3 separate regions of the Homo sapiens genome follow, and regions 1 and 3 are each linked to region 2. The links come from fine-mapping of genetic effects on gene expression. A gene starts in region 2. Each other region holds a variant in brackets. All regions are shown on one strand. Distances are between the middles of the regions.

Evidence for each region. PIP is the estimated chance that this variant, and not a neighbour inherited with it, causes the effect.
Region 1: its variant is the best candidate, but not a certain one, in a credible set for the expression of CDH22 in skeletal muscle (GTEx, PIP 0.78).
Region 3: its variant is the best candidate, but not a certain one, in a credible set for the expression of CDH22 in tibial nerve (GTEx, PIP 0.85).

The regions. Positions count from the first base shown.
Region 1 is chr20:46,341,274-46,345,462 of GRCh38, forward strand. No RefSeq gene overlaps it. Among named protein-coding and RNA genes, the nearest start is that of SLC35H1, 21 kb to the right of the region's middle. The variant C/T (reference allele first, on the strand shown) is at 1,816.
Region 2 is chr20:46,306,454-46,310,642 of GRCh38, forward strand. It overlaps CDH22 (cadherin 22), which reads right to left and starts at 2,045. Exons shown (of 12, transcript NM_021248.3): 1 at 1,802-2,045.
Region 3 is chr20:46,200,677-46,204,865 of GRCh38, forward strand. The region is part of intron 7 of CDH22 (cadherin 22); the gene reads right to left. LOC124904916 (a long non-coding RNA gene) reads left to right here and starts at 4,185. Exons shown (of 3, transcript XR_007067611.1): 1 at 4,185-4,189. The variant G/T (reference allele first, on the strand shown) is at 2,381.

The DNA of each region.
Region 1 (4,189 bases), 35 kb after region 2:
GAATAAACAATTCCAATACAGCGTTGCAGGAGGGGCAGAGGGGTGCAGACAACAGGCCACTTGGCATGCTCTTGAGGGATCATGGGGCTGCACTCAGCCACTGCCCCTGAGTAATGACCTGACACGGCCACCTTCTCCTTGCCCCCGTCTGGGCTTGAAAACCAAGATGTTCACATTTGGAACATACATGATGGAGACACCCCCGTCCCTCCCTGCCCACTCCCAAGTTCAGGCACTTGTGCTGAGCTGACCCCTAAGTCACCAAGCACCACAGTGCCCCTGTGCCCACATGTCCAGGTCGGGGGTGGCTGCAGTAGCACGGCGTGTTGTCTCTGTGTTTCTGCTTGCCCTGCGGATGAACGCACAGAGCGCATGAGGGAGGCTGTCTCCAGCGCCCTGATGTCCAGCACAGCTACAACCCCTTTTGCAGCCTCAGGCTGGGAAGTGGGGATGGGGGCTGAGGGAGGGCAGGAGCTGGGATGGCATGGCGGGGACGGCGGAGAGGACCAGCCACGCTGCTTGGAGAATGTGGTCTTTTCAGAGCAGCCCTTTGAAATCGAGCAAGAATAACTTTAAACAATAAGATGCTTCTCTCTCCCCCTCAGTTGTTGCCCAGGCAACGCCAGAGTGCTCAACAACTGTTTAGTTTTTTAAGAAACCAAATCTCCCTCCCTTTGGTCAGCTACCGCCAGGAAGATGAAGAGGCGGTGGCGCTGCCCCTTGCGGCCCATTGTGTTGGACCCGGGTCAGCCGCCTGCAGCAGTGACATTTAAATCTGATGCTACATATTATATATGAACCCCGAGCCGCACTCCTTCACGACTTGTGCTCCCTAACCGGGGAGGCTTCAATCTCCCACCCCAGACTTCTTGCCCGCTTGTGGCTCTGGCAGTCCTGGGGAGTCACAGCTGAGAGGCTGACCTCTGCCTGGCAAAGCAGCTGGGAGCTGAGGAGGACATTGGGTGGTGATCCGTCCCCAACCCTCTGCATCACGGACCCATGAGAGCCCTCATCAAGCCAGCAGTCACCTCATCCACCCAGGCAGTGTTTAACCCCCAGCAGCTCTGCTAAACTGTTTTTGAGGGGCCTTGACCTCTGCACCAGCAGCTCACCTGTTTTACATTTGCCTGCTCAAAAGGCAGATTGGTGCCCTTTATCTCTGTAGGGTCTTCCACAATCCAGCAAGAGACGTTTTTTGTTATCCCCAGTTACAGATAAAGCAGCCCAGGTGCAGAGAGCTCTGAAAGCTGACTACGAGATGTCAGGCACTTCCAAACGGAAGCCCTGATGGCCGCCCACGGAGCCAGGTGCTACCTCAAGCCCATTCCTCCAGAAGTGGAAACTGAGGTTCCAGGGGTTAAAGTGATGACCAGTGGGTATGGCAGGATTTGGACCTGGGCCAGCCCAACTGCAGGGCCTTGCGTCTCATCCTACACTGCCTTGGTGAGACCCTGTGACTCAAGGACAGATGGGCAGATCTCTCCTGGCTCCCAGGCTTGGCCAGTGTGCCCTCCTAGAGTGGGGATCGGTGCCCCACTTCGCCTCTAAGGAAGGAACATGATAAACTTTGGCAACATGAAGTTCTGGGTTGTGTGTCCTTAGGCAAGTTCAAAGAAGGTATTTAAATCCTCACTTTGCTTATCTGTAGAATGGGGACGGTCTCCAGCTGGCAGCACTGTTGTGAAGAAGCAAGTAATGACAGCTGCCCCGTAGAGAGAGCTGACATGTTTTGGGCAGTGTCTAACCACTCCGTTTAATCATCACAGTGACTCCAGACTCAGGTCCTATGATCATCTCCATTTTCAGATGAAGAAA[C/T]AGACACCCCGGGAGGTGGAGTCACATGGCTAGAAACTAAAGCCAACGAACATAACCCACAGGGACAGGTCCTGGCACATAGTAGGTTCAAAGCGGACATTGGCTGTCTTCTCCTAGGAAGATAAATAGAGGGGATTCTGTCTCCTGGGAAACAAAACCTGGGAGAAAGGTAAATTTAGAAAAACGAAACCAGGTTAGCGCAAGCCCCTTATCCAGCTCGGCAGCACAGTCAGGATGGGAAATTGGCTTCAGACACAACAAAAACTAGAAGGGGAAGTCTCGACATTTGTGAAATGAGAGAGCAGGGGTAGGGGAGGCCAGGGCCCTGGACTCTGAGGAGGGATCTGCTCTTCCCTACCCAGGGCTTGAAGGGCTGCACGAGGGGGGACGCCACCAGCAGAGGCTGGGGCAGGGCCGGTTCCAGGCCCAGACGGGGTGAGGGAGTCCCACACCTGAGACAGATGGCCTTGCCCCATCTGGGAATCCCTGGAGGTTGTGCCGAGTCCCTAGCAGTGACAGGAAACACAGGCAGATGACAAGCTGCCAAGGTGCAGGGATCACATTTCCTAGCTGATGCTTCCGCCCCATCTCCTAGGGCCCTTTCTCTCCCAGGAAACTGGTGGACACTCATCCTCCAGTTCCCACCTCCCCCTGCAGAAGGCTCCTGTCCCCGCGTCCCCCCTTCCTGCCCCCGCCAGCGCATCTCGTTTAGCACCGCTAAATGGCAAGCCCAGAGGTACAATGTCGGAAGGGGCTGGGGTAATGAACTCCCATTGGCTTCCTTCACGAGATCACTGCCTTAATTTACGAGGCCTGAGTGAGTCTCATTTCCCCAGTGCACGTTGAGTAATTAACTATTAATAAAAGCATTACTGAGTTAACCATGGGGGCATGTTTAATTCATGGGGCAGCCCAGGAACAGGATGGGAGGCTTGGGCTCAGTGGGGGATTCCTCGCAAAGCAAAATATTGCCAGCAGGATGCCGCCAGGCCCTGGGCCCCCTACAGTGGGCCACCTTTTCTGTCCCTAGCCAGAGTAACCTAATCTCAGGAGGGTAGTGAGGCTGCCTGCCATCCCAACCACAGGGCTGCTGAGCTCTGGGAGGTGTAAGCCCCTGCTGGGCTATAGGGCTGTCTGCTTGGTGGCTAAAGAGCTGAGTGACCTTGGGCAAGTCACTTGGCCTCTCTGAGCCTGTTTCATATCTGGAAAGCAGGGCTGTTCAGAACCAACAGCTTCCCAGGGTGGATTGCAGGACTAAGGAGCTCAAGCATGGAAAAGGATGTGGTAAATGACCCAATGCTCTTTACTCGCATGAAATTATTTTAGGACCTCCCTCTTCCCCCTCCTCATGCTAGAGATACCACTGTTGACTGTTAGGGGGCGGGGAGAGGATCTACTTACTTGTTCAAAATAACATGATGGAACAATCCTATCAGGATACCTCCTCTTTTCAAAGATGGATCAGTAGCCCCGCTCCCCCTCCTCTTTCCCCATGTGCACCTCTGGCCAGCCACGGGTGAACAAATTGTTACAGCAGCCAAACACACCAACCTCAAGCTCACGCACATCTCTGCACCTTCGCATCTGCTTTCCCCTTGCAAGGTACGCCTCTTTTGTCTGCTTAGCAAACTTCTATTTAGTCTTCAAGACTCAATTCAAAAGGGTCAGCTCTTCCTGGAAGTCTGCTCTCCTCCTGACCCAGACGGTTGCTCCCTTTCCTGTGGCTCCCATACATTCAACTATTATGGCATCTGTCCATCCACCATCCATCCATCATCCATCTACCCATCCATCCACCTATCCATCTACCATCCATTCATCCATCATCCATCCATCCATCCATCCACCCACCCATTCATCCATCCATCATATATCTACCCATCCATCCATCAACCTATCCATCTATCCATCCATTATCCATCTCTCCATCCATCCATCCATCCATCCTTCATCCATCTACCCCTCCATCCATCTACCTAACTGTCCATCCACCCATCCAGCCATCCACCAACCCATCCATCGATTATCCATCCATCCGTCCTTTTATATTTGTTGAACAACTACCATGTACATCTCTGATCACACGGTTTTGAATGAGTCTGGCTTTCCATAGACCAATGATTCTTAATCTTTTGGGGGTCAAGGACACTGTCTCCCAGAAAAACATGTAAATGCACACACATGCTGGATGCTGCTTTCCTCTTCAGAGATCCCTGGTCATCCCTGAAGCCAGACTGTGGACCCTGGTTGTGGTAGACACTGTGATGTGGTGTTCAGGTCTCCGGTTGGGAGTGAAGGACTTATTTCCTCAGTTGCTGGGAGTCCGGCAGTCATCCTTCTTTGGGGTTTGTCTTGAAGAAACTGCCTTACCCAA
Region 2 (4,189 bases):
GTGCCCCTTAGCTGAGAGAGACCTGGCTGGCTTTATAAAGTACCTGCCCCCGAGGCACTGGCAGTGGTGGACCGGGAAGGGCACACAGACATCTCCAGGAAGCAGTGTTTAAATGTTGGCAATGCCCTTCCCTTCCAGGAGGAATGGAAGAGGAGTGTCCCAGACACTGGGACAAGGAGGGAAATAAGGGTGAAGTAGAGAAATGGCTGGGGCAGGGAACAGTTGAGTGCTACAGAAAAACTGAGGCAGACAGGATAGAAGATGGGTCGGGGTTGGGGGGGACGAGGAAATGGTCATTGGTGGGCAAAGACCAAAGGATGTCACTATGGGTGTAGAGGCCAAGTTTCAACAAGGGCTGTAGACTAGGGGCAACTGAGGGGGACGGAGTGGGCACTGATGGACACATATACGGGATACAAATGAAGGACAGAGAGTCGCGGTGGTTAGGGAGGAGCCTTTGGGCCCTAGGGCAGTGGTGATGCTGATATAGGGTATTGGCGCTGACCAGTGGGAGAAGAGGATGAGATCCTGAACCTGGGTGGAGAGGGAGAGAGAGCTGGCAACAGCCAAAGCCCTCAAATGAGCCGCTGCCTGTGCTGGGGGCACCTCGGCCAGCCCCAGAAACCTGGGGAGTGCTGGAATCAGCCCCACGGAAAAAGAAGCTGGCATGCGCAACCCTGGCGACGCCCGAAGGGTTTGGAGAGAAGAGGTTCCAAGGAGCGAGCACCTCGGAAGACCTGAGCAGCTTCAAACAGCAGCTTCTCTGCCCGCCACAAGGGGGTGCCCTGCACCTCGGGGAGACCTCGGGGGATCCTGGATCAGCCCTACCCTCTGCAGCCCCGCCTGGGACAGGGCCCGACGTTGCCAGAGAAGAGGCAGCGGGGAGGCGCGAGCGAGACGGGTCCACACTGTGCCCACCCAGGGCTGCCCGGCACCCCGCGCGCCCACGCAGTCCACTCTTCACAGTAAACGCCGCGGCCCCCGAGGGTTAGCCCTAAGTGGCGCTCTCTTTGGACGTTAGGCTGTCGGGGGCCCCGTCCTTCTTCCCCAGCGGGGACGGTGTCTCCGGAGTCGGGTCCTAAGGAAGAGAGCAGCGCTGGCTCTCGCTCACCGCCAGCCCGCCCGACGGCCATAGGGCAGGGGGGGTCGCGCCGGTGGGGCCGGCAGGGGTCCCTGTGGGCCGCCTCCCCGGCTCAGAGGGGACCAGAACCGTGCGTGTCGCCGCGGCTGGAGTCAGCCTCCGGGTGTCCCCGGACGCGGCACGACCTCGCACACACACACCGCGCGCACACGCTCGCGCCGTGCGGTATTTTCCCGGCCCCGGACCCCGCCTCTGGGAGGGGCCGGGGAGCCGAGCCCCGCTAGCAGGGTTGGGGGACCGGGAACGCCTGGGTCCCAGCCCTCGCGTCAGGGCTGTGCGCCACCTTCCCAGCCCCTTTTGGCGCGCCGGCTCGGCCCCTGGCGCTGCCACCCCTCGGCCCGCGGGGGTCCCGGAGGCTCCCGGGCGCGCGGCGGACGAGGTTGTGGGGACGGGTGGGAGCTGCGGGCTTCGGGCCGAGAGGCGGCTCGGCTCCGCGCCGGGGAAAGTTTGGACGTGGGAAACTCCCTCCCCGCCCTCCCGGCCGAGAGGAGGGGGCGCGCAGGGCCGGGCGCAGGCACCCCGGCTCCTCCTGCGGCTGGAGGCTCGCCCCCCGCGCCGCCTGCCCGGCCGCTCCCGCCGGCCAGGGGGCTCCCTCCCTGCCGGGCAGCCTCCCCTCGGCGGCGATCCGGCCGCTCCTCCCGCGGCACCCCGCGCTCTTACCTCGGGGAGCGGCCCGGGGCTCCCCCTAGTCCTGCCGCCTCGGGACGCTGCGTGGGGCGGGAGCCCCGGCGCGGGCAGCGGGCGAGTCCGGAGCCCCGCGGCCGCCCGCAGGAGCCGGAGGGAGAGCGGGAGCGAGAGGGGGAGCCGCGGCGGCGTGTGCGCGCGTGTGTGTGAGCGAGAGAGCGAGAGAGCGAGAGAGCGAGGGAGTGAGCGAGCGAGCGGGAGCGAGGGAGTGTGCGTGTCTGACTGGGGGGAAGTGTGCAAGGGACGGATCCCTTCCTTCCTCCCGCAGCCTCTGGTGGAGACTCGGAGAATGCAGGGCCCGCCGGGCAGGAGCCGCGCAGCGCCAAGCCGCAGGCGGCCGCCGGCCCGGACCCCCGCAGCCGGGGAACCCCAGCCCCCGCCCCCCGGATCGCGCCCCTCCTACACCAGGAGGGGACAGCCTTTCCCTCTCTCGGGCGGCCCAGTCCCAGGAAACCCCCCAGGGGACAGTGCCCCTCCCTCCTCCAACCCCAGATCCGCGCGAAGGGAGCGCCCCCAGGAGGGGGACCATCTACCTCCTCGCCTGGCAGCTCCCCAGGTGGCCGCAGTTTGAGACCAGAGCCTATTTCCCCACCTGATTTTACTGCGAATAGGGCTTCCCATTTCCGCCCCCTGACTACTGCGGGAGGCCGCCTTCAGAGGAGCAGGGGCGCAGGCCAGGGTAGGAGCAGGCTTCTCGAACAGTGGCCGCCCCGGCTTGCTGCCCAGAAAGGCACCTTGCACAGACCAGATCTGCCAGTTCAGAAACAGTCACTGTGCATTGAGGTGGACACCGACCAGGTGCCCAGGGCTGAGTCTCCAGGCAGGTGGGAGGTCGGGTGTCCCCGGGAGAGAAACTTGTGGGCTTTTCCTCTGGAGAGTCCCGCTGGACATCCTTGCAACCAACAAAGTAAGCAGGCAAAACAAGACACCTCCATCCTTAACTTGGTGCCACCTTGACCTGGAGAAGTCTCCCAATAAAATCTTCCCACTGCCCAGAAACTCCTTGCTGGTTGGGTTTTCCGTTCTTTTAAAAATCCGGCTGGTCTGCTCCCTGATGTTTTTTCCACCTGGCCCTGTTTCTTTCTCCTGGCTGCCTGGCTCTCCTTACTACTTCATCTCTCTGGGATGAGGCCTAATGGAGGAGACCCTCCCACCCCACTCCTGAGTTCCCAATATGAGGTCGTTGATGGTAGGATAGGACCAGTGACTCCCATAGACCCACCCTTTGTCTTGGGTTGTAGGTCCCCTTAGGAGTTGCCCGCCCCCCTATTCCCCATGGCTTCCAGATAGGTGAGTGAAGGATAACAGGAGACTGGACAGCTGCAGACCTCTGTCCCGCCAAGCTGCCAATGACCAGCCATTTAATCACCCACAAGCAGCTGCTGAAGTTCATGGCAAAGAGGGGGCAGGGCCCTCCAGGACCCCCAGCTCTACCTCGCCCCTATCCTTCTCTCCTCCTCGCCTCCTTCCCCAATTTCCATCTCCATCTCCACACCCTAGTCCGTCTTGCTGATGATTGGAATCACCTCTCCTGCTGGCTGCCCCTCTGGCCCCTCCTACTAAACTCCATCATTCATTTATTTATTTTGAGATGTATTCTCCACTGTGCCAGTCTGTTCCCTCCCCTACGTCCTTCTCTTGGTTTATTTCCCTTCATTGATCTCTTCCAGCCTTGCCTTTCTATCGCCTTCCTTTTCTCCATCTCTCTCTTCCCCTCTCCTCTCTATTCTTAGCCTCCACTCTTTCATGCTTTCAGAGACCAGAGGCCAGCCTTCCAGGTGCATCTCTTCACTTTTGGTTCTCTCCTCCCGCTCTGACTCACTTTTGCTGTTTGCTCCAGTTCCCATTCCTTCTTTGCCTCTTCCTCCAGGCTCTGGTGTGTGCTGTTCATCTCTGGAGTCAGACCTACTTAGTTGTCCACAGGTTGTTTTGGTCTGGGACACTGTTGCTGTCACATCTGCATGCACACAGTAGGTGCTCAATAAATGTTATTGAATGAACTGTTGTCACATCTTTCTCTTTTGCTCTGGTCTCTCTCTTCTCTCTCTTTTATTTTTATTTTTTTTTGAGATGGGGGTCTCACTATGTTGTCCAGGCTGGATTCCTGGACTCAGGTGATCATTCTGCCTCAGCCTCTCAAGTAACTGGGACACCAGGCATGTGCTGCTGCACCCAGCTCCCCATGACTCTTTATTAGACCCTCAGGTTTTCCTATCCCAATGTTTCCTATTTTCAGGCTCATTCTACCGTTATTTCCAATTCTTCCTTCCTTCAACAAACTTTCTCTGAGTGTCCACTCTGTTGTGAGCACTATGGCTAGGCTCTGAGAACACATTGAATGTTTATTGAGCACTTGCTGTGTGC
Region 3 (4,189 bases), 110 kb before region 2:
GCAAAGGCGCGGCGGCTGAGAATTATCCCAGAAATGGCAAACACTGCAAAATGGTTCGAACCGGGAAGTGGGGAGAATTCGGCACCAGAACACACCGGCACAGCACAGTTGGCGTGTACTGGGGAGCCAACGGGGAATTTTGAGCAGGGGAGAGGGGGGCAGTTGTGGCATTAGGAGGCTTCTCTGGGGGCCGCGGCGTGGACACGCCCAGGGACACGCGCTGGGCGAGTGCCGTGGGAGGGGGCCTGGGGACACGGCCGCCGGCTCCTCCCGCCTGCGCAGCACGCGCGAGCTAATCTGCAGCTTTTCCGTTGCCGCGTGAAAAAGCCCTTTGTTCCGCCTTCTTCCCGGGCCTTTGTGTGGCGGCTCCAGGCCTTAAAGGCCCGTGTCCAACACATGTCTCGGGCGGCGGCGGCCCAGAGAGGCCTCGCCAGCTCCGGCCTCCGCTTCCCCATGCTGATAACGCTGGTGGGGGCGCCGCGAGGCTGCGCGCGGACAAAGGCCTCGAATGCCAAGCAAGCGCTCATTGTGCGCCAGGACAAAGCAGCCTGGTAAGGAGGGGCCCCTGCGCAGCCACCCGGCCCCTCCCACAGGCAGGAGGAAAGGGGCCTTTTTGTAGTCTCCCAGAGTGGGGAGGGGAGGACCCCAGAAGCATTGCCTGCTGGGGCCCAGAGCCCTGAGATGACCCGTCTGTGAGGCCTTGGCTGCATTGCCAAACCTCTCTGGGCCTCAACTCCCCCATCTCTGAAATGGGGATATTGACACCCACTGGGACTTCGTGGGTCTGAAAGCAGTCAGAGCTGGGTTTGAATCCTCTGCCACTGATTCTACCTGTGTGACCTTGGGCAAGTCACTCCTTGGCTTCTGTTTGCTCACCTGAAAAAGAGGATGACTCCTACTCACCCCACATTGTGGTGTTAGAGGAGGGGCGGGCATACAGGACAGTCCTTATGCTTTTCATGTTTACTGTCCTGGAGGTGAATGCCTATGGCAAACTATAAAGGGATGTGCCTATGGGTGTAGTGGGCATTATAAGCCGATCCCCTGAACCCCCAGTTTAATGCTCCATACTGTTCCTAAACTGCTAAACCCATATTCTTCTTGCCCCTGGCCACCTTGAGTCCCGCTAGCCTGGGCGAAAGTACGTGGGGAGGTTCAGACCCACGATTATAATTCCTCCCTAGCATGCACCTAACAGTTTGGAGCCTGCTTCTCCCCCAACCATCCCTCCATTCATTCCTTTATGCCCTAAACACTAATTGAGTGCCTTCTCTGTGCTGGTCTGTGCTAGACTCTGGGGATAAAGTGGCAAGTGAGATAGAAGAGGTCTCGGTCAGGCATCTTATGAGGCTGATGTGATCTCCCCCATTTTACAGATGAAGACACTGAGGTCCAGAGAGGAAACTTGCCAAGCTTAGAGCTGCCAAGTATGGTTGTGCAGGTTGTGTCATGCACAAAGATACCAGGCCGAAGTGGGGAAGCAGGGGTGAATTCCAGCGAGCCTTCTGCTTGCCCAGCCACGTGTCCTAGACCAGGAAGTATCAAAGGGGGGCCTGTTTCTTATTTATACAAAGGTGACAATGAGCTAGTGATGCCGATGCCCTGCTCAAGGGTGTACAGCGACTCTGTCACAGAACTGAAATTTGAAACCAAATTGGGGATTCTCTCCCAGAGTTTAATTTTTTTTTTTTTTTTGAGACGGAGTCTTGCTCTGTCACCCAGGCTGGAGTGCAGTGGTGCGATCTCGGCTCACTGCAAGCTCCGCCTCCTGGGTTCATGCCATTCTCCTGCCTCAGACTCCTGAGTAGCTGGGACTACAGGCGCCCGCCACCACGCCCGGCTAATTTTTTGTATTTTTAGTAGAGACGGGGTTTCACCTTGTTAGCCAGGATGGTCTCAATCTCCTGACCTTGTGATCCGCCCGCCTCGGCCTCCCAAAGTGCTGGGATTACAGGTGTGAGCCACCATGCCCGGCCGCCAGAGTTCTTTTTAGCCTGACCGACAGCCCATCCAAAGTTGAACCAGCCAAATCCTCGATGCATGAAGCTTCAGGGTCCCCTTTGCCCCAGCCTGGCCCCATCAGATATCTGAGTCCAAAGGAGGTTGAAGGAGGCTCTTGAGCATCATCAGCTCAGCTGGAAAGAACTTTGGAGACCTCCTCCCATTCTACAGGTTGGAGGATAGAGGCCAGGAGAGGACCAGAGACATGACATAGCCTGGGCTTCTGATCCCTCGTCAGGGCTGGGCGAGAGGCCGGGCTGATGGGAGGATGCCAACTGCCTTCTTGTTGTTTCTCCTCCCTTCTTGGCTCAGAGCTGTCTCCTCTCTCCTCCCTCCATGCTGCTGCTGCTCCTCCTCCTCCTCTTCCTCCTTCTCCTTT[G/T]CCCTGTTTTTCTCTTTTGTTCTTTCCTCGAGGGGAAGGGAGGGGCTGGAATCTAAATGGAGGCAGCTGTTCCTAAGGCCATAGGGCGGGGGCAGCGGGGACCCGCCATTAACTAGCTAAAGACCTGGGGCTGGGGGTCAGTTTGGCTGGCTGAGCCCAGGTGTTTTTATTCCAGCTCAGGGAGCCAGAGAGTGAGTGGGAGGGAGGGAAGCAGGGAGGGGTGGGAGGAAGCAGTGTGTGGCAGGGACTGTGGCCTGGCAAACTTAGGGGTGGAGGGGTGGGGTGGGGGCGAAGCTTGTGCAGCTCACGTGTAGTGCTCGCATGGGTTGTGTATTTGGTCTGTGTTGTGGGTGGACAGTGTGTGTTTTGTGTGGCGTGAATATGTGAGTGGTGTTCCTGTGTGTGTGAGATTGTGCATTATAGTTGAGCAGTGGCTCAAGAGGCAGCAGCTCAGCCCTGGGTCTGGATCCAGGTCTGCATTGCCCCCAGGCAAGTCACTTCCATCTTTAATTCCCAGCAAAATAGAGATGATAATCCTACTTTGTAAGTTGTCGGGAGAATGAAACGCATGTAAGGTGCCTAGCTGAGTTCCAGGAAAATTACTCCATGAATGGGAACTATTGTCACTGTAATTATTATTCAGAGATGTCTGGCAGGGAGTACACAGGAGTCCCCCCAACCCAGTGTGTGGCTTGCATGCCTGGGGGCGGGGAGGTAAGATGTAGGGACACAGTAGTCTGAGAAGGACAGGAGGAAGCTGTGGGTCTAGAAGGTTCTGCTTAAATTTTGCAGTCCTACTTCTCATTTGGTGACAACAACCTGAAGGGCAGCAAGGGGAACTAGAACAGGTGAGGCTGGGGGAATAGGGAGAGAATATGAGTTTGTGGCAGCTCGTGTGTGTGTGCACCCACACATGCAAGGGAGGCCTGGGAATGGTGCTTAGGGGTGCAGATCTGATGCCCATCTGCCTAGGTTTGAAACCTAGATGTGTGACCTTGGGCAAGTCACCTAATCTCTCTGTTCTTCAGTTTCCTTCTCTTAAAAATGGAGATAGTAGGCCGGGCAGGGTGGCTCACACCTATAATCCCAGCACTTTGGGAGGCTGAGGCGGGAGGATCACGAGGTCAGGAGTTTGAGACCAGCCTGGCCAACGTGGTGAAACTCCGTCTCTACTAAAAATACAAAAAATTAGCTGGGTGTGGTGGCATGTGCCTGTAATCCCAGCTACTCATGAGGCTGAGGCAGGAGAATTGCATGAACCCGGGAGGCAGAGATTGCAGTGAGCCAAGATCGCGCCATTGCACTCTGGCTGGGGAGATAGTGTGAGACTCTGTCTCAAAAAAAAAAAAAAAAAAAAAAAAAGAGAGAGAGACAGAGATAGTAATACCTACCTCACAGGCTGGTTGTGAGGTTCGGACAAGTGACTACCAAGAAATCCTTAAGATGGTTCTTGGTGTACAGACTAGCTCTTACTTTTCTTTGTTGAGCAAGACTTTGTATCATGAGCTCTTCGAATCCTCAGATACTGTCATCACTCTCATTTTACAGAGGAGGAAACTGAGGCTCGGAGAAGCCAGGTATCTTGCCCTGGGTCACACAGGGCTAGTTAGTGGCAGAGCCAAGCTCCCATGTCTGTTCAGAGCCGGAGGTCTAACAGCATCCTCTTAAGGAGCCAGCCAGGTACACCTGCTAGCATTTCTGTGTTAGCAACAGCACAAAATGCTGCTGTTGTCAAGGTTAGGGTGGAGAAAATGGGGAGGGTGCTGCTTCCTGGCTGGGGTGCACGTGTGGTTTTCCTCTACATAAATA